6 separate regions of the Homo sapiens genome follow, and regions 1, 2, 3, 4 and 5 are each linked to region 6. Evidence: fine-mapped expression QTL. A gene starts in region 6. Each other region holds a variant in brackets. All regions are shown on one strand. Distances are from middle to middle.

What was found. PIP is the estimated chance that this variant, and not a neighbour inherited with it, causes the effect.
Region 1: its variant is fine-mapped to the expression of INTS10 in blood mononuclear cells (TOPMed, PIP above 0.99). The same link has a PIP of 0.9 or more in monocytes after R848 and whole blood.
Region 2: its variant is fine-mapped to the expression of INTS10 in whole blood (INTERVAL, PIP 0.98).
Region 3: its variant is fine-mapped to the expression of INTS10 in testis (GTEx, PIP above 0.99).
Region 4: its variant is fine-mapped to the expression of INTS10 in unexposed skin (GTEx, PIP above 0.99). The same link has a PIP of 0.9 or more in NK cells, Th17 cells, Th2 cells, esophagus mucosa, ileum and memory regulatory T cells.
Region 5: its variant is fine-mapped to the expression of INTS10 in whole blood (INTERVAL, PIP above 0.99).

Annotation. Positions count from the first base shown.
Region 1 is chr8:19,851,000-19,855,864 of GRCh38, reverse strand. INTS10 (integrator complex subunit 10) reads right to left here. Exons shown (of 17, transcript NM_018142.4): 17 at 3,798-4,216. The coding sequence ends at 4,060. It overlaps LOC124901901 (a long non-coding RNA gene), which reads right to left and starts at 1,968. Exons shown (of 2, transcript XR_007060843.1): 1 at 752-1,968. The variant A/G (reference allele first, on the strand shown) is at 2,908.
Region 2 is chr8:20,014,096-20,019,080 of GRCh38, reverse strand. No RefSeq gene overlaps it. Among named protein-coding and RNA genes, the nearest start is that of LPL, 77 kb to the right of the region's middle. The variant A/G (reference allele first, on the strand shown) is at 2,583.
Region 3 is chr8:19,767,084-19,772,068 of GRCh38, reverse strand. The region is part of intron 2 of LOC107986920 (a long non-coding RNA gene); the gene reads left to right. Among named protein-coding and RNA genes, the nearest start is that of CSGALNACT1, 12 kb to the right of the region's middle. The variant C/T (reference allele first, on the strand shown) is at 3,045.
Region 4 is chr8:19,842,767-19,846,766 of GRCh38, reverse strand. INTS10 (integrator complex subunit 10) reads right to left here. Exons shown (of 17, transcript NM_018142.4): 14 at 3,840-3,919; 15 at 2,529-2,691; 16 at 970-1,063. Among named protein-coding and RNA genes, the nearest start is that of INTS10, 27 kb to the right of the region's middle. RefSeq lists an enhancer at 2,739-2,838. The variant C/G (reference allele first, on the strand shown) is at 2,277.
Region 5 is chr8:19,753,011-19,757,698 of GRCh38, reverse strand. CSGALNACT1 (chondroitin sulfate N-acetylgalactosaminyltransferase 1) reads left to right here and starts at 422. Exons shown (of 9, transcript NM_001354483.2): 1 at 422-513. The variant C/T (reference allele first, on the strand shown) is at 2,326.
Region 6 is chr8:19,814,849-19,819,744 of GRCh38, reverse strand. INTS10 (integrator complex subunit 10) reads right to left here and starts at 2,329. Exons shown (of 17, transcript NM_018142.4): 1 at 2,079-2,329; 2 at 1,403-1,470; 3 at 69-172. The coding sequence starts at 2,207. RefSeq lists enhancers at 1,389-1,478, 1,689-1,778, 2,279-2,338, 2,379-2,458 and silencers at 1,959-2,088, 2,609-2,748.

The sequences.
Region 1 (4,865 bases), 36 kb before region 6:
TAAAATCAGTCGGGCATAATGGCATGTGCCAGTGGTCCCAGCTACTCAGAAGCTGAGGCAGGAGGATCGCTTAAGCCCAGGAGGCTGCCATGAGCCATGGTCGCGGCACTGCACTCCAGGGTGACTGTTACTCTGGGTGACAGAGCAAGACCCTGTCTCTAAAAAAATAAAAATAACTGTTCACGTTTATTTGTTTTTCACATGGATTTATCATTTATAACCCCTACAATTTATATTTAATGTTATAGAAGACTGTATTACAATTTCTGTGATTTCATATTTACAGATAAATATTTCTAATAACAATAACATTTTTCCCATAAACCTTGGGCCCCACCCCACCTGAGGAATGATTCTCTGTTTTACCCCCGCTGCCAGTCTGGGTCCCCGTGGGCCCCTCTCTAGGTTGGCCCTAGCCTCTCGTCTAAGGTGGCAGCCGGACAACTGGTCTCGACCCAGCAGCTCGAGGCCTTGAGCTAGTCCACTGTCTCAATGGGCTGTCCCTTGGCTACAGTCTAATGGGGACCCCTGGCCTAAGGCAGGCAGGGGCCTATCGATGTGAGTCTTTGGAGGTTGATGGACTGCAGAAGAGAGACCGAGCCTGGCAGACTGCTGGTCAACCCTGAGGATGCAGGGGGCTACCCATCCATCTCTGCTATCCCCACCGCTCCCCAACTTTGTCCCAGCCCAGGGTGCATCCTGGCAGGGTGGCGAGGAGGCGGGGCATTGAGTCGGGTTGCCAGGAGGGTACCTGATCACTGCCGCCCCACAGTGTGGCTCCGGGTCCGAAGTCCTAGGGATCGAGAGGGATGGATGCATAGATGCTTGGAGCCTCCATATGGGTGGACAAACCCTGGTGTCCAGGACTGACTTTCAATGGATTGCAGCGAGGGAGCTGTTCTGCTGCTTAGGAAACCCAGAGGCAGGTCTTACTAGCATCATTTTCCCCAGGAACCTGCATTTGGTGACGAGTGAGGGGCAGGTGTCTCTTTCTGGCAGTTCCCCTTTTCCCAGGAGGGACTCTACATCCAGATGGACCTAAGCGTAGGAGGAGGATGCTGTGCACGCAGGGTGCACCCCGCTGCCAGGTGAGGGGAATGTCTGGGACGAGATATCCAAGGTCAGTCAAGCCTCCTATGCACCGCTGTATCTTCTGCCTGCCTTAAGGTCATCCCGATGGTAGCTTTGCCTCATTCGTTACTCAGACAAGCAGACACCAAAAGCCTGAGCCTGCAGTTCCTTTGTTAGGGAGCAGGATTGCCATGGCAACAGTACATCTCCTGTAGGAGTCTAAATGTTACAGTGGTCCAAACCCAGCTCAAATGTTCCCTGTCACAGGGACTGGGAGCAAGAGTTGATTCCCTGAATGGATTTCAAAAAGCCAGCTCTTGGGTTCTTGAGAAAACAGCTCTGGGGGGTCACTTTGCATCTCAAAGGGCAAAGGATGTGTAATTGCAACCTTTTTAAAGTAACTATTCTAAGCGAGAGTCCAGGGGCCTATCTGCCTATCACCTGGTTTGGTCTGGAATAAATTTTGGTAGCATGGAGCTTTCTCAGGCAGGCATTTTAAGCGGGACTGGGGTCATGGCCTTAAGCTGCTGGTAGCCAAGCTAGAGTTTGGTCAGGTCTCTTAGTGCAGCGATTTGGATGGAGCCATTATGTGCTGAGAGGTCTGCAGTTTTCTCCCAGCTCCTTCTTTTTCTGCAAATTCAGTCTGAGTTTCCATTTTATTCTGTGGCCCTTTCCCTGCAGCCTCTTCACAGAGAAGTGGCACCACTGAATTTTAAAAAAGATGGTTAATCCTCTTTTAGCTAGTACCTACATTTTGGGGTATTAGAAAGTCTTGTTGTGATGTGCACTGCTCCTGAAACACTGAGCTGAGGAAGCTGTTCGTGATGGTTAATATTAGGTGTCAACTTGATTGCATTGAAGGATGCCTAGATAGCTGGTATTGTTTCTGGGTGTGTCTGTGAGGCTTTTGCCAGAGGAGATTAACATTTGAGTCAATGGATCGGGAGAGAAAGACCCACCCTCAAGCTGGGTAGACACCAGCGAGGGTAGAACAAAGTAGGCGGAAGGTGGGATAAGCTGACTTGCTGAGTCTTCTGGCTTTCATCTTTCTCCCGTGCTGGATGCTTCCTGCCTTTGGACATCAGACTCCAGGTTCTTTGGCCTTTGGACTCTTGGACTTACACCAGTGGTTGGTCATGGGCTCTCGGGCCTTTGGCCACAGACTGAAGGATGCACTGTTGGCCTCCCTGCTTTTGAGGCTTTTGGACTTGGACTGAGCCACTGTGGGCTTCCTTCTTCCTTGGCTCGCAGACGGCCTGCTGTGGAGCTTCACCTTCTGATCATGTCAGCTAATTCTCCTTAACAAACTCCCTTTCATATATACATCTATCCAATAGTTCGGTCCCTCTGAAGAACCCTAATAGTGTTAGAAAACCTAAAGGTGAGAGTGTTTAATTTGGGAGCTTTTAGGTGGCAGCACATCCCATCACTAAAAAAAGGATAGCTTATATATTTGTAATAAACTCATATTACACTAATAAACACTGCAAAACAAGCTAGTTGATATTTTTGAGATCAGATGTCTCTTATTTAAACCATCTTATTGATTTTAATATAGCTATAAAAAGGATCTTTATTTAGAAAAGATTTCTAAGACCTTTTATGCAGAGTAACTGCAAAACTTCTTAGCTCTTTCATTCTTAAATACTCCCTTGAAACAAATTTTATTGATGTTTGTCTTCTGTATAATTTCATGAAGAGCAAAAGGAAAATAAAATTAGCCTAATTAAAAAAAAAAATTAGCCTAATAGCTAATGTTGGCCAGCACTAACTACACTCAAGGCCCTCTCCCAAGCATTTCACGTGGAGCAACATTTCATCCTCCCAATAACCAGC[A/G]AGGGGAGGACCACTCAGCTCCGTTTTCAGACAAAGAGCTTGAGGCACACAGAAGTTACCTTGTCCACGGTCACATAGCAAGTAAGGGCAGGGCAAAGCCAGGATGCAAAGCCACACAAGGCCACCTGGCTCCAAAGCCCCTGGGTAGAAACCACTGGGCCACCCTGGCACAGCAGCAGGGACTTCCTGGAGCCAGACAGCAATGGGGAGGCTGCTCTGCCACACCTTGCCTCTCACCTCCACTTCCTGTCCTGGGCTTTTCAGCAGCCCTGAGCACCTCTCCTTCAGGGGACCATCAGTGGGAGAGGTCAGGCTCAAATTCATTTTTACATAAATGTTTTTGGTGTTAAAACTTCCCGAATGAGGCCAGGTATGGTGGCTCATGCCTGTTATACCAACACTTTGGGAGGCTGAGGTGGGATTGCTGGAGGCCAGATGTTTGAGACCCACCTGAGTAACATAGTGAGACCCTGTCTCTACATAAAATTAAAAAAAAATAGCTGAGCATGGTGGTGTATACTTGTAGTCCCAGCTACTTGGGAGGTTGGAGGCAGGAGGATTGCTTGAGGCCAGGAGTTTGAGGCTGCAGTGAGTTATGATCGTGCCACTGCACTCTAACCTGGGTGTAGAGTGAGACCTTGTTTCTAAAAAAGAGATCACCTGAATGAAAACGTCTAATATTATGTTGATATGCAATACCGACCAAAGCCTAACTATGGAAAATAAAATCTTAAGGTCATGGAAGACATATGTCTTTTAAGTAAGTATCTATATTAGTAAAATTCATTACTCAATTCAATTATGCTGGATTTTCCCCCTTGCTATATGCTTAGAAAAGAAGAAAAATGCACCCCTGTTCAAAAACTCATAAGAATTAAATTTTTAAAAACTTCAAATTTTAGGATGATTTTTATTTACAAAACAGATTGGTACTTTTGTTTTACAAAAATTACAAAAAATGACTCTTAAAAATAGAAATAGCTTCTCAGACTCTTGGGAACTACTTTTAAGCAACCAAGGAGTTAGAACTCAGATGGTTTTCTTCTTTGTAACAGCAACAATGACCACGGCTCTGTGCCATGGCAATCACTGCTGAGTGTCTTCTCCTACAATTACACAGGCCCGAGCTGTGTCTGGTGGAAAGGTCTCCACTCAGGTCAGAGTCTGAAGGAGCAAGATCTTCTCATTAATGCAGAACCTGTGCAGAACCACCATCAGATTCTCTCCACAGCGGGAGACCTGGCGCTCCATGGCCAGGCGAAAGTCCTCCTTCACGCCTTTGGTGATGCCTCGAGTTACAGTGTGGTGCCTGAGGTCAGCAATAGGGAAACAGACAAAGACCAGGGGTTAGCACCAGCATCGCTGATCGCTGCTACTTGGGTAGGAATAAAGCCTGCCCCATATCTAAGTATAATTTCAGATATTTTAAAAAGAACACAAGAATAGCTGCAACCAACCAAACATTCCAGCCCATTTCTCTTCAGAAAGACTTAAAACTAGACAGACATCTTTCTCACTCTATAAAAGGTTACTTCAAACATTTAATTGTTCAGTAAAATGCCACCTGCTTTGCCTTTGAATCAATGAAGCTCTGGTGTTATGCATCCCTACTGCTGACTGGTACACAATTCAGTTACTTAGGGCCAAATGGGTCCAGTCCACACTGGCTACAAAGAGCTCATGTCCAGCCCGGCCAGCAGACCCTCCAGAGGCAGCAGCAAGGAGGGAGGAGACCTGAATGAGCCAATCACCCAAGTGAGCTCCCACCATGGCCCCCGCAGCTGGTGCTCCCAGAAAGGTTCAGGGCTCCTGCACAGCCGGGGTCACAAGCACGTCTCTCTCCCCAGGACACCAGAATAGGGCAGCTCCTCTAAATGCTGTGCCCATCTAGACTCTCATATGTTGAAGAAAACGCAGCGGGAGGTGGGGTCCTGACACAAGAATGTGGCACAGGTCAG
Region 2 (4,985 bases), 200 kb before region 6:
TCTGGTTCACAGAAGGTGGCTTCTTGCTGCATCTTCTTATGCTGGAAGCAGTAAGGTGTTTCTCTGGGGCCTCTTTCATAAGGGCACTAATCCCATTCATGAAGACTCTACCCCCCATGACCTGATCACCTCCCAAAGGTCCTACCTTCTAATACTATCACCTTGGTGATTAGGTTTCAGCATATGAATTTGGAGGGACACAAACATTCACACCATTGCACCTGGATAGCTGCAGTGGCCTACAAGCTTCCTACTCTCACTCTTGGCCATCTAAAATCATCTTTTTTTTTCTTATATAGTTGAAGTCTTGCTCTATTACCCAGGGTGGAGTGCAGTGTGCAGTGGTGTAACCACTGCTCACTGCACCCTCAAACTCCTGGATTCGAGCAATCCTCCACCTCAGCTTCCCAAGTAGCTGGGACTGCAGGCCTGCACCATCACACCTGGCTAATTTTTGAAATTTTTTTTAGAGAAAGCGTCTCGCTATGCTGCCCAGGCTAGTCTTGAACTCCTGACCTCAAGCCATCTTCCTGCTTTGGCCTCGCAAATTGCTGAGATTACAGGCATGGGCCACCATGTGTGGCCAAAAATCATCTTTTTAAAAGACGTCAAATCATGTCGTTCCTCTGTTTAAATGCTTCTAGTGCTTCCCAATGCACTTTACTTTTTCTTTATTTTATTTTATTATTATTTTGAGACAGAGTCTAGTTCTGTCACCCAGGCTGCAGTGCAGTGGCCTATCTTGGCTCACTGCAACCTCCACCTCCTGGGTTCAAGCAATTCTCCTGCCTCAGCCTACCAAGTAGGTGGGATTACAGGTGCCTACCACCATGCCTGGCTCATTTTTGTATTTTTTTTTTTTTTTTAGTAGAGATGGGGTTTCACCATGTTGGCCAGGCTGGTGTCGAACTCCTGACCTCAGGTGATCCACCTGCCTTGGCCTCCCAAAGTGCTGGGATTACAGGCGTGAGACACAGCACCTGGCCCTGTTGCGCTTTAAATAAGATCCAGTTTTCTCACCATGTGCGGCAAGGCTTTCATGATCATTCCTCTGTTATCTCTCTTTCCTAACCTCCTCTGCTACCACTGGACTGTGCCCTAACCCACTCCACTCCCCAGCTCACTATGCTCTAGACTTCTGCGGAACACCAAGCTATTCGTGCATTAGAATATTTGCGCGGGTCGCCCCCAATCCCCACCTGGAAGGCTTTTCCTCTTGCTCAGTCCATGGCTCACTCCCTCCTGTTATTTAGGTCTTAGTATAAATGTCACCTCCTCACTGAGGCCTTCCTTGTTCACCTAATTAATGTAGCACCAGGTATGATTTCATCAGAGCACGCAGCACATGCTGTTAGCTATATATGGCCAAAGATAATATCTACCAGGCAATTAGGGAGATTTTATTCAAGTTATTGCCATAGGAAGAACAGTTATTAATGAGGAAAGGAAATGAAGGGAACTGGAGTTTTATAGAGGCTGGAAAACAAAGTCGTTAGCAGTTTTAGGGGAGTCATGAGGACGGACCCTGGGGAATACACAGAGAAGGGTGGGCCTTTGTGGCTAATTGTTTCTTAGAACATAACACGATTTCTTAATCACTGACGCTTTCTATGAGCACAGGGCTCAAAGTTAAAATTCCCTCTTTCCCTTCCTCTGTCTTTCTCTCTCCTCTCTTTTTTCCCCCTCTTTGTTGACAGATTTATAGATGTTTTAAATAAAACTTTTAATACGATTTCAGTAGAATTCAATGAGATGCCCAAGAGATGGCTTTTTCTGTTTAAAATCACTTTTGGCCAAGCGTGGTGGCTCCTGCCTATAATCCCAGCACTTTGCAGGGCTGAGGCAGGAGGATCACTTAAGCCCAGGAGTTCAAGACCAGCCTGGGTAACATAGTGAGACCCCTGTCTCTACAAAAAATAAAAAATGTACCTGGTCATGGTGGTGGCACACCTGTGGTCCTAACTACTCACAGGCTAAGGTGACTAAGGCTCACTTGAGCCCGGGAGTTTGAGGCTGCAGTGAGCCATGATGGTGCCACTGTGCTCTGGCCTGGGTGAAGGAGTGAGAGTCCATCTCAAAAGAAAAACAAAATTAAAAAAATGCTAAGATAAATATTGTACAAGAAAAAAATAAATAAAAAAACATTTAAAGGTGGCATTGGGTAACTTCTTATTTATTTTGAGTTGTTTTACCTATAAATCTCAGGTCTTTAGATGAACAATGCCTTCTTGAGAATATTTGATCATAGATACAGAGATTAATCTTACAAATTTTGAAGATGATAATGAAGACTTAAGTCTAAAAGGCAAAACTTCCAAGAACTCACATTTGATAAGAAGTCAGATTTTCACAACAATACTATATATAACTATGTAGATCTCAGAGCATTAGAACTGTTGGAGAAATCAAGTATTCCAAACCCCTAATTTTACAAATGAGGAAACTGGGGCCCAGGGAAAGTGACTCGTCTAAGAGCACGCAAGTTAGGGAGAAGTCTGGGATCAGTTCCCCTTGTTTCTAGCTCAGTGTTGTTTTCTATCTGTTATCTCTCTGCTTATGTAAACACAGAAACAAAAGCCAAG[A/G]GAACAATTTTGGGGGGTGGTTTCTTCTCAAAGAAAATTAAATCAAATTATAGTCATTTTAAGTTAAGAAGAGGAAAAAAAGTAGTTAAGTGAATCCTATCTGTGACTCTTCTTCTATATTGCATTTTAAACTCCTACAGATTGAGTGGAGGTTGTTGGAATGAAGTTCATTTTAACTTTGAAGTTCCAGGACTAACTTTTACAGACTCTTTATGCCCATTGCAGATTTCTCCTCGGGCAGATCATTCTGACAGCCCATGACCTGATCAAGTCTCTGCCTTGCTGGCACCTCTGCTTTTCATGGGTGAGAATCCTACTTTCAAGAAATGTTTTGGAACTTATATTAGTGAATAAACAGGAATGCCTTAAATTCTCTTATCAGTTCATTTTTAGAAACCTGATCTGAAGAAGTTATAAGTATGGTAATAAGAAACAATTGTCTTTGGCTGGGCAGAGTGGCTCACACCTGTAATCCCAGCACTTTGGGAGGCCGAGGTGGGTGGATCACTTGAGGTCAGGAGTTCAAGACCAACCTGCCTAACATGGCGAAATCCCATCTCTATTAAAAATACAAAGATTAGCCGGGTGCGGTGGCATGCGCCTGTAACCCCAGCTACTCAGGAGGCTGAGGAACAAGAATCGCTTGAACCTGGGAGGCAGAGATTGCAGTGAGCCGAGATCACGCCTCTGCACTCCAGCCTAGGCAACAGAGCAAGGCTCTGTCTCAAAAAAAAAAAAAAAAAAGAAACAGTTTCTTAAAGGGCTACTTAAGTGGTTTAAACAACTTCCCAGGATATTAGTTAAAATATAAGCAAATATTTTATGTGTATATTTAGATCAGATATCTCAGCCCAAGCTCCTTTCCCTCCCTGTTGGAAGTAGCAAAATCTCAAAATGGGGGAGTCGAAATTAATGAGTGTTTACAGTGCTTTCAATATATGGTCCCTAGCATTTTTTTTAAGAAGCAGCTTTTAATATGCCATATACTAGATGTGTTGTTGACATTTAATAAATGTCAAAAAAAAGAACATTTCTCACTGAACAAACAGTTTGGATTACAATCTTTTTATAGGATTGCTTTCTTCCTAAGATATACTTATAAAAGTCCAAGATCCTTTAGGTGAGTTCATTCTTAAACATTTTAAGAAAATAAGAAATTTAAAGTTCAGTTTGTGCAGATTGATACCTAAAAAGGCTAGGTCATGGTCCAAACAATTAGTACGTCTTGAACATTGACTATCTGCAAAGTACTGTCTTAGGCTAGACAGAGAGAAAGGCTGAAACAGGTATGACTGAAACAGAGTTCCAATCTTCAAGAAGCTTTCAATCCTGTAGGAGACATAAGACATATAATAAGAGATATCCTTAATGCAAAGTAATCTGTAATGTGCTCAAAAATAGGCAAAAACTCTAGGATATGGCATTTCAGAGATAGCTAATGGGAATGCAGCAGCAAACGAAATAAAATCCTTATGCCTTACCTGAGCCCAGGAAGGTCGAGGCTGCAGTGAGCTGTGATTACACCACTGCACTCCAACCTGGGCAACAGAGCAAGACCCTGTCTCAAAAAAATTAAAATAAAAATTAAAAAACTAAAATTCTTATCCTCAGGGAGAATGCGTTCTACTGGGAGACGCTTTATATCTCTGGCCATATCTATACTTGTGTTGATCTATATGTATATATGATGTCAGGTGCAGAGTAAGGGCATGGAGAGAGAAGAGTGACCCAAGGAGGTCTCCACTGATACAGTGATATTTGGGCAGAGATTTGTAAGGAAATAAGGCAGGAGGAGTATCTGGAGGAGAAAAGCATTCTCGGCAGGTGGGACCCATGTACCAGGGACATTCCTGTGTGGCTAGAACTTACTGTTCTGAGGGAGATGGGAAGGTTGGTTAAGAGACGTGCCTGGAAAGATAGCTAGGGCCAGATTGTCCCTCCCCAGTGCCAAGGGCTTTGAAGGTCCTTGAAAAGACCCTGGCTTTTGCTTCAAGTGAGATGTGAGCTGCTGACCGACTTTGAGCAGAGCAGCGGCGCGATCTGACTTGGGTTCCAGAAGGATCACTCTGACAACTGTGGGAGACAAGGGCAGAGGAAGGAAGCCCAGTTAGGGGACATGTTAGTTTCCCAGGGCTGCATAACGAATTACTATACAAATTACTCATACCGCTTAGAACAAGTCCATTTGTTTTCTCACAGTTCTAGGAGCCAGAAATCCAAAATCAGGGTGACGGTAGGATTGGTTCGGAGGGAGAATTCCATGCCTCTCTCTAAGTGTCTAGTGGTACCTGGCAATCCTTGGTGTTCCTTGGATTGTGGACTTTCTCTAATTTCTGCCTCCATCTGCACATGGCCTGTGTCTCTCTCTGTCTATTACTCCGTTTCTGTTTCTTAAAAGGATAC
Region 3 (4,985 bases), 48 kb after region 6:
ATGAGGGCCCTGCCCTCGTGACCTAATCACCCTCCCTTTGGGTGCCACATCTCTTAATGCCATCACACTTGGGATCATGTTTCAATACAGGATTTTTGGGGAAATACAAATGTTCAGATCATAACACTAGCTAAAAAGAAAATTGCAATTAGATTCTCCACCAGTATCGTGTATCAGAATCATCTTAGACAATATTAGAAATGCAGGTTCCTGAGCCCCATCCCCAAAGGACCTCATTTCTTAGGGCTGAGCTGAAGCCAGCAGTGTGTTAGAGCCAACTTATTTCAGTTCCTGAGAGCCAACTATTAAATTTCAAGAATTTTATGAGCTCATTACTAAAAATCATTACAAATTAAATTGTAGAAGCTCACAGTTACATAAATTATGTTAAAAACAAGCATAATAAGTATACAAAACTCATCACTTCCTATTGACTTTACTACACGTTGCTATTATCTGTGCTTTTGAGGTTATGTCTATTACTTCTGTGTGGTGGAGATACTGATACTGGTGTGCTACTGTACATCTCTTCCCAACTTCACATGCACTGGTAGCTTGAAATTGGCCATGTGGGAATATTTACACCATGGCATTTGTCAAATACAACCAGGCTTGATTTATTGTTTTGTTGGTTATGTAGACAATGATGGAATAAATGTTAATAATGTAGATTAAACTTAAAGTGTGTCATGCCTGTGGTTGTTACATGATAAATAGTATAAACTTAAGGAAATTATTGTCCCAGTCTTCAAAAACTATCTTCCAGTTCATCAAAGAAGTCTCTCACATCATTAATAAGTCATGTGAGATTAAGAAATGATGCTTCATTTTTACTCATTAATGTAAACAAAATTATTATTATGATTTAAGAGACAAGGTCTTGCTCTGTCATCCAGGCTAGAGTGCAGCAGTATGAACTTAGTATTCTCAAGCTCCTGGACTGTAGCACTCCTGCTGCCTCAGCCTCCTGAGTAGCTGGGACTACAAGTATATTCCATGGTGCCTGGAGAAATTTAAAAAAAAAGTTTTTTAGAGACAGGGCCTCGCTACGTTGCTTAGGCTGATCTTGAACTCCTGGCCTCAAGTAATCCTTTCATCTGAGTAAACAAAATTATTACCCAACATTCAATTGGAACTATACTTGTTCATCTCTTGCAGCCATAGGCTGACTGCAGATACAAGAGTTTAGCAAAAGCCAACAAAAGCATTTTGTAAGATTTATTACATTTACAATAAAGAATATTGGATGTATTATTACTTGTAAATTAGGTCCTACACATTCTCTTATCAGTAATATTTTCTAGCATACCTCTATATAAAACCCTGGAAACTGCATTTCAAATTAGCATCTCAGATACACTCATGCATACTAAATTTGGAGAACCACTGTTTTAGTCATTGAACAAAAAAATCAGGATCACTTAATTTAGTCTCCAAAGGTTCTTCCTGATTTTTACTGAAAGCAAGATAGAGAACATGTTCTTTCAAATGCAGAGGCCTGTTTTTTAAATTTAAAAATTAATTTTAAAGTAGTTGTAGAGAGGTATAATTAACATACAAAAAATTGGCACACTTTAGCATACGCAAGTTGCTAAGCTTCGACATATGTATACCCCCGTGAAACCATCACCACAATCAAGATTGTGAATATATCCATCCCCCCTAAAAGTTTTCCAGTACCCCTTGGTAATTCTTTCCTTCCACGCCTTCTTACATACCCCATACCCAAGTAACCACTGATCTCCTTTCTGTCGCTATGTTAGTTTGCATTTTTTAGAATTTTGTATAAATGAAATCATACAATATGTGACTTTTTTGGTATGTTTATTTTTCTCAGCATAATGATTTTGAGACCTATCCTCGTTGGTGAGCGTCTGAGTAGTTAATTCCATTTTCTGATTGAGCAGTATCCCATTTTATTATATGCCACAATTTCTTTATTTACCTGCTAAGGACATTTGGGTTGTTTACAGTTTTTGCCTGTTACAGATAATACTGCTCATGATGCAGGGCAGGCAAATCCCAACACTGGGGCTTAGCGCAGGAGTGTTCTTGGCTTCACCCAGGAAAGTATTCAAGAGTGAGTAAGGCAGTGGTGTTAGACAGCAACTTTTATTGAAATGGCAGTGTACAGCAGTGGCAAATGTACAGCTCCTTGTGGAGCAGGGATACCCCATAGGCAGTGTGACCAGAGTAGCAGCCCAGAGGCAGGTCTGCACTGACATTTATACCCACTTTTAATGACATGCAAATTGAAGGATGCATTATGCAGCAATCTTTAGAAAATGGGTGGTAACTTCTGGGCCATTGGATTGTTGCCATGGAAGGGAGTGGTAACTTCCAGGTGTTGCCATGACAGTGGTAAACTGACATAACACAGTAGTGGGTGTGTCTAATGGAAAGCTGCTTCTGCCTCATTCTGTGTTTTAGCTAGTCCTCAACTCAGTCCAGTGTCCAAGCCCTATCTCTGTAGTCAAGTCCTACCTCCTGAGTCAAGTCCTTCCTCTTACCTCACAATGAACATTTGTGTTTAGATTTTTATATTGAAATGTATTTCCCTTTCTCTTAGATAAATATCTGGGAGTAGAATGGCTGGATCATATGGCTGATATGTGTTTAACTTTTTTTTTTTTTTTTTTTTTTTGAGACAGAGTCTCACTCTGTCACCCAGGCTGGAGTCCACTGGTGCAATCTCGGCTCACTGCAACCTCCACCTCCCCCAGGTTCAAGGGATTCTTCCTGCCTCGGCCTCCTGAGTAGCTGGTATTATAGGCGCCTGCCACCAAGCCCGGATAATTTTTGTATTTTTAATAGAGACGTAGTTTTGCCGTGTTGGCCAGGCTGGTCTCAGACTCTTGACCTCAGGTGATCTGCCCGTCTTGGCCTCCCAAAGTGCTGGGATTACAGGCGTGAGCCACTGCTCCCGGCTGATACGTGTTTAACTTTTTAAGAAACTACCACTCTGTTTTCCAAAATGGCAGAAATCAATTATTTTCTTCCCTGTCTCCCTCCGTCCTTTTCTTTCTTCCTCCTTTCTTAACCCC[C/T]ACACCCCCGCAACTTATTTCTTTCTTTCTTTTGTGGTGGTGAGAAAGTATGAGTAATTAAGACTTTCATGTGAGCACTCCAAGCAAGCTAGTAATGTAACATAATTTATATCATTTAAGTAATTACTTAACATTTATTTAGTAGGAGTGGGAAAGTATTTTGTAGTAATGAACATTACCTAGAGTTAGAGTCACTTAATTTACTTCATTGGCTGATGATGAATTTGTTTAAATTTGTTTTCCACTTTTTCAGCAGTTCTAGTTTGCCCTTCCATTTCCTTTTGTGAGTTTCTGAACCAGACAACACCTTGGGAGGTATATTAAAGGGTTTAACATTTTGGATAATAAAAGATTCACTCACTTCTGTAAGTATTATGCCATGTATTATTTGGTTTTAGAATTTCAGTTGAAGGCAGCAAATTACTATTTAGCATGTATACATTGCCAAAATATTCAACAGAGTGTGTGTGTGTGTATGTGTGTGACTGTGTGCGTGCATGTGTGTGTGTGTGTGTGTGGTGGGGTGGTGTTTGTCTTCCAACTCCGAAATGCCTGTTTCAAGAGTAGTGAGACAATTACATTTTACTCGGGATAAGTGGGGCTGTATTTCCAATTTATTTTAGCGTTATGTGAGTTCCCCCTTATAGTTTCCTCTTATAGATTGTTGCTCTAAGAAGCTGCCTGGCAGACCTCTGCCTCTATCTGGCTCTGAATGTTCCCTTTGAAGAAAGAAAACCTAAAAGCTAAGACTAGGTATGCTATTATTATACAAGGAGACTTTTCAAAACCCCTAATCTAAACTAGCATAGCTTCAGTTCATTGCCAGTTAATTGTAACTAGAAATTCAGAGCCGCATCAAGGCATCTGCAAGGACATGCCCACAGGGAACCCTGACCAGAAAACATTTTTCTTTGTACGTGTGACAGCTTCTGACTTACTTCAAGATAAGGCATTATTTCCCACATTTTCTTGGAATGAGTTCGTTGGTGGCAGAACTGGAAGAGACGATGACCTAGCCAGTGCTATTGCTTACTGGAGCTTCAGGTAGCCCTCCCAGGAGGAGGTGGTTTCGGCAACCTCCTCCATCCTTGGGGAAAGAGGCAACAGGTGCAAATTCTCCCAGAAGTTACTGGACCAGTGCCCAATTCTTTGATGACTCGGCAATGTGGTGTTATTAAAATTTATTTTGTTATTTTATCTGTAATCACCATATTACTCTGAAAAATGTAACTTTTCATATAGCAGTAAAAGTTTATTATCCACCCCCAACACCCAGCCTTTTCCTGGGTGTTATTTTCCAGTGAATTGCAGAAGTTATGTAAAAGTCTTCAAAAAGCCCTTTATCAGCAAGGGAACAGTCTGTCTTTCTCTGCCCAATCAAGATAAAAGCTGTGTCTGAAGGGAAGCACTGTTTATAGGTCCTGGGACTGGTTGTCTTCCAAGATGCTAGTAAAAAAGAAAAAAAAAGTAGGAAGGAGAAGTATCTGTTCTGTGAGAGGGAAAAGAAACAAACACACAAAGAGCTTCCTTATTTTAGTTCTGTGAACACTGTTGATATGACTCTAGTTATTGGCTTAATAAAATGAGAGTACACAGATGGCACTAATTATCACCCCAATGAGAGTACAAAACATGGTATGATATGAGTAAAGAATGAAGCAAATGACTGAAGGAGTATATGCATTCATCGCCATCTTGTTGGCCTTTCCATTGTGATACTTCCTCACCCTTCTGACCACACATAGCACAGCAAAGGATCACTGGACTGGGAGTTGGGTGGGCAAATCCCAATTCTGAATTTATCTTGTTCTTAGAGGAAATATTAGAGATCAGTGGTTTCCTCCTATTTTCCTCCTATTATTCTTTCCTACCAAGAACCTATTTTTATTATTTCTGCCCTGTAAATAGGATGTTTTGAAAAATATTATTAGTTACCTCTTT
Region 4 (4,000 bases), 27 kb before region 6:
GAAGCAAGATTTATGAGCTATTTAAAAATCATAAATGGTCACTAATTTGGCATTTTCATCTGGGCCAACCCGGAATTTTAGTAACATCTTGTGAGTTCAGGGGAGCATGGTGGAGACCAACCACTCCCACCATCATTTCTTGGGACAGGTGTGTTCTTAGAGGCACTATACCTGGCTATTAATACTTCGTTGTTATGTAAGTCATGAGGACTGCATAGGAGGGCTTCATAGGTAGTTTATAAATAAAAAGTCTGTAGTTTTTCCTAAAGAATTTTTCTAACCCAGCACAATTTTAATTAAGCACAGCTGTTTTGTTTGTTTGTTTTTTTTTTTGAGATGGAGTTTCACTCTTGTTGCCCAGGCTGGAGTGTAATGGCGCGACCTCGGCTCACTGCAACCTCCACCTCCTGGGTTCAAGCGGTTCTCCTGCCTCAGCCTCCCAAGTAGCTGGGATTACAGGTGCCCACTATCATGCCCACATAATTTTTTTTTTTTTTTTGTATTTTTAGTAGAGACGGGGTTTCACCATGTTGGCCAGGCTGGTCCTGAATTCCTGGCCTTAGGTGATCTGTCCTCCTTGGCCTCCCAAAGTGTTGAGATTACAGGCGTGAGCCACCATGCCTGGCCACACAACTGTTCTTAATTAAAGGCACTCTGTGACTAATCAGAAACTTATAGACTCACCCTATAAATTTTTGAAAGTAAAAGATATCATGAATGAGACTTTTGTCTAGTGAAAAAGTTGCAAATGTGACAAAAATACCCCAATTTAAGCAAAGTGTTTTAAGAAATGTAGTTAAGGAAATGCAAGTTTTTCAAAAGGTACCCAGAATCAAACTATCATAACAGAGACCAGGTTTAAAGTCCTTTGTATTAAATTTTTGATAGGTATAGACATTTACAAATACTTCATACAAAGACACAAAAGGTGAGCACTCAGCATGGAAGAGCAAAAGAGAACATGCTTACTTGATCAGCATTCCTTGATTGGGTAGTAATTCCAGATGAATTTTCCCACCTTCCTGAGTTCTCAAGTAGGCAAATTCCTCCAGCATATCAATATCTGCAGGCCAGATTCAGGTTAACCACATGTAAAAAAAGGTGCTAGTTTTCTCTGATGAGGAAATGGGGTCTCGGCAGTTGAGTAACTTGCCCATTGCCATCCCACTAAAAAAGGTGCCAGTTCTCTCTGATAAGGAAATGGGGTCTTGGCAGTTGAGTAACTTGCCCATTGCTACCCCACTAACTGCAGACTCCATATTTGAACCCAGATCTGTCTGATGCCAAAACCTGATTCTTATACCCACTAAACTCCCTCGCACAGATAACTCTTGGCATGAGATGTGCCAGGCTAAAGAGCATGAGGACAACATGTTTTCCATATCGATAATAATTAATACTACATGGTCACAAGAGCAAAATTTTTTTGTTTTCTTAATAAGAAATGAAAGAGGAGGTGAAAGTAGGGAGGATTCTTTGGTGTTACAGAACATAAAATTCATAAAAATCAAGTGATTACTTCTTCATAACTGGGGTGCAAGGGTTTATAGATGCATCAGAGGAGGAAGCTTCTGTGAGTCACCCAAATTTTATGCAATATGTCGATGACATTCATGTATGCATTTTTCTAGTGAAAAATTATGTAACTTTCATTAGATTCTCAAAAGATATCTGTCCCAAACCATGGTTAAAAACTATTACTTTGGCCTGGTATGGTAGTGCACACCTGTGGTCCTAGCTACTCAGAAGGCTGAGGTAGGAGGGTCTCTTGAGCCCAGGAGTTTAAGACTGCAGTGAGCTATGATCACACCACTACACTCCAGCCTGGGTGACACAGCAAGACCCCAACTCTAAAAAAAAACAAAATAAAAATAAAAACTATTGCTCTGAGCACCTGAACAAGAATATCATTTATATTCCTTGCAATTCAGAAATAATGTAATAAGATAAACAATGAAGTAAAAACACCCAAATTGATAACTAACCTTTAATTCAAAGGTCTTTCCCTAATAAGCAGTGTGAAATACAGCATTACCTAATGTCAGAAGCAGCTACTGTGCTGTGCAGCATCTCTGGTGGGTACTCATTGGTAGGTAAGACAGCTATGGCAGGGTGCCCTAACAAGTGATTGCAGGGCACAGCCACTGTCCCCAGAGGCTACAGGAGGCATTCTTTTGACAGATGGAAGAAGAGGAACTATTAGTATTATATTCCTTGACTAAACCGGGCAAGCTGGACCTATCAGCAACCTGTAGGCTATTACTGGAGGCATTTTG[C/G]GTACCTTCTTAGAAGTCACCTAGCAGTGGAAAATGGAAGAGGGTTGTAAGATTCCCAATTCCTTGAATCATGTCTTTCACGACTTTCAGAAGATCAACTGCCACAGCCCCAGTTTTAATCCCCATTCCTTCTCTTCGCTGCAAAATAGTAAAAATCATTATTTCTATCCAGAATGGTTCATTCTTTTTCTATCATGTATTCATTCTAAAGAAAATCAGAATGTGTTATGCTTAAACAAGAAAAAAGGATACTTGTAACGTAATTGAAAAAATTCTCATATTGGAAATTTCCTTGTTGGCAAATTTTATTGACAGCTTTCAGGAAAAGATTCTCGCCCCGTGGCCACTCTTGCTGAAGCAACACAATCACATGCCCCAATGCCATGTCGTCTCTGTTGTCTGTGAAAGCTCTAAGCTGCAAGACAAAGATTTATACAAGACAGAAGGAAAAGGAAGTCACAGGGTAATCTGAAATACAGCAAACATCACTTTCCAAAAATATGCTGTATATGCAAATGTGTGATAAACGTCATTAGAGTAAGAAGGAAACAAAGGCACAACGAAATGGCTGGTAAACATCACAGCTGCCTTCTAAGGAGGGTGGATTCTAACCAAAGAAGCCTCAGGCTCCCTCTGCACAGCTGCTGGCAGTGTGTAGATGGCAGTTGGACATGGGTGGGCCTGAAGCTTTTGCATATGAGAATCAGGGGCAGAGAACTCTGATTCATCCTGTGTAATGGAGAAATAAATCTGAAGATTTCTTTGAAAGGGAGCAGATGGGAGTAGGTGGGCAAGAGGCCATCCAGGAGAGAACTGTTTGTAGAGAACATGGGATTGCAGAGAAGGAAAGGTGGTGAGCCACAAGGAAATAAGCAGAAGTGTGAACTAAAGAAATGGTCAAAACAGTTTTTGTTTCAAATGAGCGGTTATGCATAAAATCACACTTTAAATTGTTTTTGTTGCCCTAAAAAAGTGATATGGATGATGAGTTAAGTGGGAGTTACTGCACTGAAGTGGAGACCCAATGTTTTACTCTCTGGCCAACAAACCTTCCAGAAACAATGAAGCCTCCCTGCTCTAAGGCTCTGCTCTACCTGTAGCCAAGGGCCTTGGCGTTCTTTCAAGTCCCGGAACTTTCCCAACTGTTGGGCTGTTACTGGTGTTGATCTCAACACCTAACATGCTTAATCTAGCACATCTTTACAATGACAAACTCATCATCCCTCCATGAACCTAACCGCAATTTGTATTCCCTTTCTTTGTAGCTAATATATTTATATTGATAAAATATTTACCAAACACTACAACAGTCAAGGTTATTTGCATATCTGTCCCACTATTACACTTTTTGAGGACGGGGAGAACTTCCTACTTCTCTTTGCCTAGCGCAGTCATTATTTAATATAGATTTGTTAATTAGTAGCCCATGTGCTTTTCTAACTGTTTGGGCCTGCCCTCAAAAGTACTAAAATAACAATCCTTAGCAAGGTTCTCAAGTTCTCGAGTCATGAGAATAATATTTGAAATTACATTTTTTTTCAAGCTAATCAACTTTAAGCTTACCTTAAAACAGGCTAACATTAAATGGAGGCAGTATGGCATGATAGCCTTGCTGGTACAAGGCAGGAGCTTCAGATCCGAACCTAACAGAAGTCCACAATGTTAGGTTAATGTATGTTATTATCAAAGATAACAGCTTTGAAAGGCAACTGTTTAAGATGCTT
Region 5 (4,688 bases), 62 kb after region 6:
GAGCAGGGGGATGGGGAACTCTGTCCTGCAAGAGTAAGGACCCCATGGAGATTGGACACCTCTCTCCTGCAACTCGGGCCACGCCACAGTGTCCTAGTCTCTAAACTTCTCCGGCTCTTGGTGTCCAGTCACGCGTAAACCGCCCCTGGTGTCCGAGCGCGGCCCCTTCCGAGAGTGACAGGCTTCGGCCAGGGCGCCGCTCCGACGGGCGCAGGGACGCACTGCAGAGAGGCCGTGGGTGACGCGGAGGTACGCGGCCAACCGCGACCCCAGCCCGGCCTTGGCCGCCCCCGCCGGACCTACCCTGCGGCGGGGCGCCAGGCTTGGCCGCTGTTGCGCCCGCCCGCCCGAGCCGCCGCCGCCGCCGCTGCTCCCCGCCCCCGGGGTCCCTGGAGGCTCCGCGGCTGCCGGAGCGGGAGGTGGAGCCGAGTCCGCGGCGGCCGCGCAGGAGGGAAAGTTCAGCGACGGCGGCAGCGGCCGGAGCCGGGCCGGGCAGCTAGCAGGGCGCTTCGGGTGAGTCGGGTCCCCTCCCGGGCCAGCCGGGCGCGGTGTGCCGCGCGGGGGCGTCAGTGGCGCCGGCAGATCCCCACAGCCCCGCGCGCCTAGCTCGCGCCCGCCCACCCCGCGACCTCGGGGTGGCTCGTGCAGCTGCGGAGGACGGTGCCGCGCCTGGCCTCCCTCCGCCGCTGCCCGCCGGGGGCCCAGGGCACGGGCAGGGGCCGGGGACCGGCTTGGCAGGCGGAGGGCGCGGCGCCTCCAGGTGGGCGCGCGGGGACGCGGAGGGAGCTTCCAGGGAGGGTCCGGGGCCGCTGCGCTCCCGGGGTCGGTTTGGCTTCACCAGCGTTTCTCGTGGCCTTCCGCTGTCTGATTGCTTTCTGCAAAACCCACTGAAAAGTAGCCTTTCCACGTGCCGCGCGATGACTGCGGTTATTGTATTATTGTGGCTGGGATGGAGAGGGTGGAGGGGGCGTGACGAGGGTGGCCGGTGGGCAGCGCGCTCGCCTGCCCGGGACCGGGCTAGTGGGGGATGTGGCTGAGGGTCACCGCTGCCCGAACATGCCCAGGGGACGTGCGATCGGTGGGCAGAAGCTGTTCGAGGGCATGATCTTGGGGTGGGATGGGGGCTAGAAGGGCGGGGAGGAGAGGAAAGCTGTAGGAAGCGGAGGCAAAGTTGTTTGTTTCCGTCGCACTTCCTGCACCTGCATTCCTGTCAGAGATTTTGAAGTTATCTTTTCATCGATGAGCAAAGAATGGTGAGAAAGGAAGAGATGTTAACAGCACTGTGCCTGCCAAAACAGTGAGCCTCGGGAAATACTCATAAGTGAAATACTAATAAAAAGCATGGAGTGGTTAAATTTCACAAACTCCACTTTTCTTCTGGTTTCAAAGCCTTGGTGCAGTTTTTACTTAACGTCATTAGATACGTCTAGATAATAAAGGTAATGAAGTGTTCTTTCACGGTTTTTTTTTTTAAACTGGAAATTTAAATTTAATTCTGTAGGATTTCGTCGACATTGTTCCTACAAGAAAGTCAAATTACCTTGGTGTTACTTGCAACAGTGAGCATTAATAAGCCCTGTGCAGTGCTGAAATGTTGCTAATTGGAGGGAGAAAGGTCCTTCAAACTTGGAAATAGACGCAGAAAGGCAAGATGAATTTTTATGTAAGCCTTAGGCATAAAAGGCGACTTGAACACGTTTTGTAATAGTGCATAATACACAGGGGACTAGGTGTTGGGCTGCCGGAAGATGGTCAATTCCTAGAAAGCAAGAGACGGGCCATACCCATTGTAAGATCACCGTACATATTTAATAATTCGTCTGCCTTGAGCTGCCACACCATATGTACTCCACATAATACAATATCAAAATACTTTAATCCTGTTCATCTTTGTGTGCTAAATCTTATATGTCTATTTGTAAAATGTATTAGTGGGTTTTAAAGCAGAATCTCCGACATTTGGATTCATCCGTTTACATTACAGTGCAGTGAGCTTGTGTCTTTGCTGTTCCAGAGACCTGAGCTCCAGGCGGCTTCTTCCACTTATTAATTGCATGACCTTGGGCAAGTTACTTCCCCTTTCCTAGCCTTGGTGTCCTAATTTGTAAAATGCCAATAGTATTCCTCACCTTATAGAGATGTTTAGCAGGAGGAAATTACATTTGGGAACTTATCCTAGTGCCCCGAGCACACAGTATGCACTTCATAAATGTTGTCTTTTTTTTTTTTTTTTTTTTTTTTTGTCTTTCTTTACATTTAGGGATCCCCAACTCCAGCATGTTTCAACATTTAAAAAAAATTGTAAAAATTCCTTCTTCTTTGTAA[C/T]CCTACTTTCTATTCATTTATCTATTGATTATTTATTGGAGAATCTCAGATACTGCCCAGTATAGGTGTTGAAAATAAGGAGTTGAAACTTTGGGGCAATACTTCAGCTTTTTCTTGTATCTTCCTAAGAATCCATCCTAAGTTCATATGATGATGAATGATACTTACCAATCTTCATGTTGCTCTAGCTCTGTTCTTAATGCCATGTTATTACATTAAAAAGAAATATCAGTAAGGTCTGCAAGGGTCCTCATCTTTCCTCTTTCCTCCATGTCTAACACAGTGCCTGGCAGGGCATAAGGACTAAATAAATATTTGTTGATTTAAAATACAGAATGTAATGAAGTTATTCTTTGGATCACATCCTTCTTTTAATAATTCCTGATGAAAGGACCTTGAGATTCTAAATGTTAGCCCTACTATATATTAGGGCTAATAGAGGTTATTACAGAGGCAAAGCTAGGGTAGACTTTATTACCTATTGATTTTGCATTCATGATGAAGCAGTCTTATAAAACCTATAAAGCCGGGTTGGAGAGGAGCTTCGCCACTAGGGGACCTCTTCAGCATAGTGTATCACCCCAGGCTGTCATTTATTACCATTATCCTGTCCTTTAAGGTAGCAAAGAAATTTAACTTCCTGGGTTCACGACATGGAATACTTTATTAGAAAAGGGCAACCTTGTGTCAAAAGCATTAGCCAAAGGCCTAAAAATAAATTAAAGTGGTCTTAAATGATGGATTTGGTACTGTTTTTAATAATTTTAGAGTTAAGGGCTTAAAAGAGATGTAAGAATTTGGATTTGTATTTTATATATCCTAATTTCCAAATATATGCTTTTTTAAACTTTGAAAATATATATGTATATGGTTTTCATCTAGGTATTTCAGTGGTTTTCTTTGTATGTCTTTGGTACAGCTTATTTTTATCTTTTAATGTGTTTAAAATGGTTTTATTTCCTAAATAGATATTTGTATCATTAACAGCAAAAAAGTTGTTTTTCAAGGAATTTTATCTGGCTAGCAGAAGCTTCTGGTTATCTGTCCTTTTTAAAAAATGTCTCACATCTATAATCCCAGCGCTTTGGGAGGCTGAGGCAGGCAGATACCTTGAGGTAAGGAGTTTGAGACCAGCCTGGCCAACAGGGCGAAACCCCACCTCTACTAAAAATACAAAAATTAGCTGGGCATGGTGGCACATGCCTGTAATCCTAGCTACCCGGGAGGCTGAGGCAGGAGAATCGCCTGAACCAGGGAGGCGGAGGTTGCATTGAGCTGAGATCAGGCCACTGCCCTCCAGCCTGGGCAACAGAGCGAGACTGAAAAAAGAAAATGGAGCCACATTGAATCTCACCTTTAAAAAGTGTTTTATCACATTCCAAGATGCATCACTGAAAGTCACCTTTCTTCTATGTGTTTTTGAGAAGACTTCTTATTTCTAAATTCTAATGTGAATGAAGTTAGTCGAGCTTGAGAATATTTATTGAACAACTCCAAGGTGTTTTTATTTGTTTGTGTTTTTATTTGCCAGAAATAATTTGCTATTTGGTAGAAAAATTACTGACAATGTATATAAACAAACATTATTACTGAAAATATTGCCATATTGTATGTAAATGAATGAGAACATTATATTTTCAGGTTTTCCATGAAACTTAATTCGAGTGACAAACTAAATACCTTTAATCTGTAAGTAAAATTAGAAACAGTTAGACCCAGGTGTGGTGGTCCCAGCTACTTGGGAGGCTGAGGTAGTAGGATTTCTGAAGCACTCAATATATCAAAACCACGCTAGGCAATATCTCAAGACCTTGTCTCAGAAGCAAATGGACAAAACCCAACGAAACCACAACAAAAACTAGCAACAGAGAAAAGTTTAGCCCATTGTAGGTCTTAAATCTTACCAGTGGTTTTCCTGTCTTATCTAGCAGAATGTCTCTGAGTTTGGAAAATTATCAGACATCCAATTCTGATATTTACATGGCAGGATTTTACGGTAAGACAATCTGGTTTTTTTTAAAAAATCAAGGTCTAGGTCAGTAATCTTAGGAGAACAGGGTAAGAGGAATAACTTTTGGATGAAGGTTGTAGAACATTTTAAATATCATTTCCCTCTGATTAAGCTAAATGTTTTGGATTACTTTTAGGATTCTGCGCACATGAAAAGGTTATAGAGATCCCATTTGCACAGACTAATGCTTCCCCAGAACTGCAAGAGTTTGGCTTATCCTCAAACCCCCAGCTAGCAAAGGCCATGGTGTCTCCCTGCCTCTCCTTCATCTTCGCAGACTGAAGCTGAGTCCACGCCAAGATGATAGGTACAAAGCTTTATGCAGGATGGGACAATTTAGTTTGGGCAAGAG
Region 6 (4,896 bases):
TTGTGTGTGAAATTACTATATATGATTTGGTATTCCCGAAATGGTAACTTATACACCATTATTCTTACTTCTTAAAAATTGGGTTTGTTTGTCCTGTGAATCGTTCCTTAATGCTGATGTAATAATGCTGATTTCTCTCCACACCACCGGCTGGTCTGGGAAATTCACAAACCTATTTTTAAAATAAATACATTAAATTAAAATGTCAAAGTCTATACAGTATCCAAAAGAAAAAACGTTAGCATTTGGTGAAAAAGTTTCCTTTATTCCAAGTGAATGCTTAGACGTGCCAAAACAAACCAAAATAAAAATGTAAAAATAAGAATTACTTGATTTATAAAAATGAGAGTACTCACATAAGTCTTTAGTGGGTTTTATAGGTGAAAAGACAAGTAACCATAACATAGAAAGAGCTTCTAAAAGTCAACAAGAATAAAACAAACTATTTGAAAGAAAAAATAGGCAAAGGCAAATCACAGAATACACACAGCCAAAGAGAACAGTTGAAACAATACTGAATCTTATTAACAGTATGAGTAGTACAAATTTTTTTTTAAAATAGCAAGATACCATTTTCTCCTATCACAGTGACAAGAACTAAAAAGAGACTAATAATATCCAGTGTTGGGAAGGGTATGGGAAAACACACTCTTTATACACCATTGGTGGTAATGTAGACTGGGATCGCACATTTTGGAGAGTAATTTCATAGCGTATCAAATTTTCAAATGCGCATAAACTTTGACTATGAAAATGTCTTAGAATCTATTCCACAGAAAAACACCAAAATATGACTACAAAATTGTTGACACACTGAATATAATTTCAAATAATTTAAAACTATCTATTTAAATGTCTACCAAGAAGAGAGTGTCTACGAAATACTACACAGGCATGAAAAGGAATGAAGTGGATCTCTACATACTGATATGGGAAGGGGTCCATGAGAGTGAGTAAAGGAAACATGCTGCAGGGCAAAGGTAGTATGGTCTTCTCACTTTTGTAACCCCTTCCCCCCAAAACCTTATTTATGTATTATGCATACATGTATAGATATACTGCCTACAAAACTTAACTCTGGTTCAGTTTAGGATGCACTTTCACTTTTTGTTCTCTATAACAAGTAGTGTTTGAATTTTTGTAATGAGCACATATTATTTCTAGAATAAATTATGAAACAGAAGTTTTAACAAGGATAAAACATAAGAATAATAATTAAACTCTTCTGCAAAAGCCATGTCAGCAATTTATGGCAGGCCTGGACTCCTTACTAGGTTTGCTTTAGGTATCGAAGATATAGATGAACTTGAAGATCTTCCCCCAACTCCCACTTCTGCAGAGAGAAACAAAACCTCATGGAGAGATTCAGTGCAGTAAAAGTGATGTCAAGCGTCCCACTCACATGTCGTACAGCAGCCTCCCGGCGGTGGCGGTCCGCTCTGCATTCCGCTCGATGGTGTACATCTCATACTGCAACACACATCAGGCACCCTGGTCACTCACCCCTGCCCAGAAGGCTCCCAGCTCATCCAGCATCGCTCGTTGGCCCTCCTGCAGGAAGGGAGGGCCTGAGAGTGAAGCTCCGCCTGGTGACACAGCGCCACATACATGGCAGACTTGCCATTGGGCTTAGAGTGTGACCCTGGGGTTCACCTGCAATCTCAGGCTCCCAGGATTAAGTAGGATAATATTTCCAAAGTCGCAGGCCCTGAACAAACTGCTGCCATTATGATGAATGAAGGAGCGAATGGCCTTTTGCTAGTGGCGATCATGTGCTGTCTAGGCCAGATGGCACGCTGAGCCCCAGGGACCTAAGCACACCCGACCTCAAGCGGGATCGGCCGTCTCTCAAGTGCTGGGGAGAGGGCTCCTGGAAGGTGTAGGAGCAAGGCGGGTGAAAGGTGTAGGAGCAAGGTGTAGGATGGGAGGGGAGAGAGGAGGGGGTGGGAGGGGAGAAAGCAGGGGGCCGGGCAGGAGGCGGCAGCCCCCAGGCAGGCGCAGCTCTGGGCCAGGGCAGCCCGGGCGACGGGAGCGCGCACCTCCACGCAGAGCGGCCGCATGCACAGCCGGGACCTCACCTGGATGTTAAAGTCTGCCGGGTAGAGGCTGCGGGCCGTGATCAGCCACGCCTTGGCTGCCCACAGGTCTTGCGGCACCAACTCCCGGGCTCGCTGCACCAGGAACTCGCAGTCCCCCTGGGCAGACATGACCCGAGCGCTCTCCAGCCGCCAGCCCGAAGCGGCCGGAACGTCCGGCTCTGGACTCTCAGCCGCCACGGCAGCCACCGCCGCCGCCGCCGCCACCGCGGGGGAGGCTACTGCGCATGTCTGGAGGCGCACGGAGGCTGGCAGAGTGGATCGGGAAAGCTTTTCCGGGTTTTGCGAGCAGTCTCCTCCCCTTGGCTCCTCGTTACCGCCCGGTCCCCTCCTCTTCTGAGAAGCCAGAGCAGTTGAACCGCTTCCAGGTCACCTCGAAAATGCGGAGAAGTGGATTTTCATTCCTGCGGGCTGCAGCGTGACCTTGGTGAAGTCAGGGAGCATGCGCGGGAGCGGGCAGGCGCCAGGCCTCTTCGCCATTTCCATCCTCTCTGGGTATTGCTCAGTTTGTCGGGGGCGGGGGCGGAGGCGGGGGCGGGGAGACGGGCGGTCCCGGGGAATGGGCGGTCCCTGGGCGTCCCCCCGGCGTGGAAGGTTGAGAAGAAGTTTGAGAGGAACAGCAGAGGGTCGGGGAGGCGGCGGGAAGCACTCTCCACCCGGGCCGGCCTGAAACACCTTCCCCGGGGGCCGCTGCCTGCGACTCACTCCCCGGGCTTCGATTTACGCGAAAACTCCTGGGGCTGGTGGGGGTGATCGTGCAAAGCGTGAGCTCCGGGGTTCCTTCTCTTTCCGAAATCCGTCCACGTTTTATTATTTCACCTTTATGCACCGGTTTCTCCAACAAACGTTTATTGAGCAACGAAGTACTTGGAAAGCGCTTTGGTGGATGCCGTCCGTGGGAGCTGCAAAGATGACTAAAACCCTGACCCAGCAAGGGTTTTATATGTTTTAAATGTTCTGGACGTGAAACCCACAGAAAGATAACTACGCTATTATTATAATTATCTCCTCCAGCCACAATCAATGTCCTTTTCACCAAAACTCCAGATTTGTTTTCCATCTAAGAGATGAAAAACATCTAGGAGATTCTCCATCTAAGAGATTCTCTTGCCTCAGCCTCTCGAGTGGCTGGGATTACAGGCGTCCACCACGACGCGCTAGCCCGGCCAATTTTTGTATTTTTAGTAGAGACGGGGTTTCACCATGTTGGCCAGGCTGGTCTGGAACTCCCGACCCCAGGTGATCCGCCCTCCTTCGCCTCCCAAAAGTGCTGAAATTACAGGCATGAGCCACCGTGCTGGGCTTCGAAGCACTGTTTAATATCTCCTACTTATGCACAGAACAGCATAACTGTATGATTACTTTATGGGCCAGGATTACTCAGTGATACAGTTATTTTGGGTTTGTAGAATAGAAGATGGTAGAAAATTGGATTTAAACGGAGTAGGATAATTTTTATGTTATAAAGTGTACAGCATAAAAGCAGATTGCTAGCTTGAATTGTTAAAATTATTTCATTGATGTTAATATATGAAGTGTAAGAATTTTCAAATGGTAAAAATGACTGATTTGGTCATTAAACTTTCTGGTTTTGGTCTTTACCAAAAATAAAAAAACAACTCCACACTTGTTCCTGAGCCTAGTGTTCTGTGGAATAACAATTGTAAATTAAGATTTTAAATTTAGAGGCTAAATAAGGAAATTCTGTTTTTGTTTGTTTGTTTGTTTTTGAGACACAGTCTTGCTCTGAAATCCAGACTGCCAGTGAGTGCAGCAGCTCGATCATGGATCACTGCAGCCTTGACCTCCCAGGCTCAAGCCATCCTCCTGTCTCAGCCTGTGGAGTAGCTGGGACTACAGGTGTGTGCCACCACATCTGGCTAATTTTAAATTTTTTTGTAGAGACACAGTCTCCCTATGTTGCTCAGGCAGTTCTTGAACTCCTGGGCTCAAGTGATCCTCCTGCTTCAGCCTCCCAAAGTGCTCGGATTACAGGCATGAGCCATTGCGCCCAGCCTCTGTATGTATTTTAGATGCCAACCTTGAGAGGGCCTCTAGACTTTTTGCCAGAATACAACGTAAGGTTTGTGGTTATTTTCTAGTCAGCTTCTTGATTTTGAATGGTCCCCAGCTAAACATTTCTCCTACAGTGTTATGCTGGCATCTCAAAGTACAGAAGGGAGGTAACACACCAAGTGAGTTTACATCTTTTGGCCTCCTTGCCATGATCTTGACTCACTGGAGACTTGAGGCGCCTAGCTCATGTTCTTCTCCATGACAACTTTTTTTTTTTTTTTTTTAAAGACGAGTTTTGCTCTTATTGTCCAGGCTAGAGTGCAGTGGCACAATCTCAGCTCACTGCAACCTCTGCCTTCCGGTTTCGAGTGATTCTACTGCCTCAGCATCCCAAGTCGCTGAGATTACAGGCGCCAGCCACCATGCCCAGCTAATTTTTTTTTTGTATTTTCAGTAGAGACGGGGTTTCACCATGTTGATCACGCTGGTCTTGAACTGCTGACCTCGTGATCCACCCACCTCGGCCTTCCAAAGTGCTGGGATTACAGGTGTGAACCACCACGCCGGCCCTTGACAACTTCTAAGTCACATAAAATGCCCTGCATCCAGCACCCGGCTTCAATTTCCGTGAGCTCAGTTCAGTGATCTGAATTAAACTCTACATTGCTTTTCCCCTTCCACTTCAAAATCTTCAAACTCCAAGTTTCCTCACATAACCTCTTAACTTCCCTGCCCTCAACTCTCTCCTTGGTTCTTTTTAATAATTTCCTCCTTTCCCTTCTCC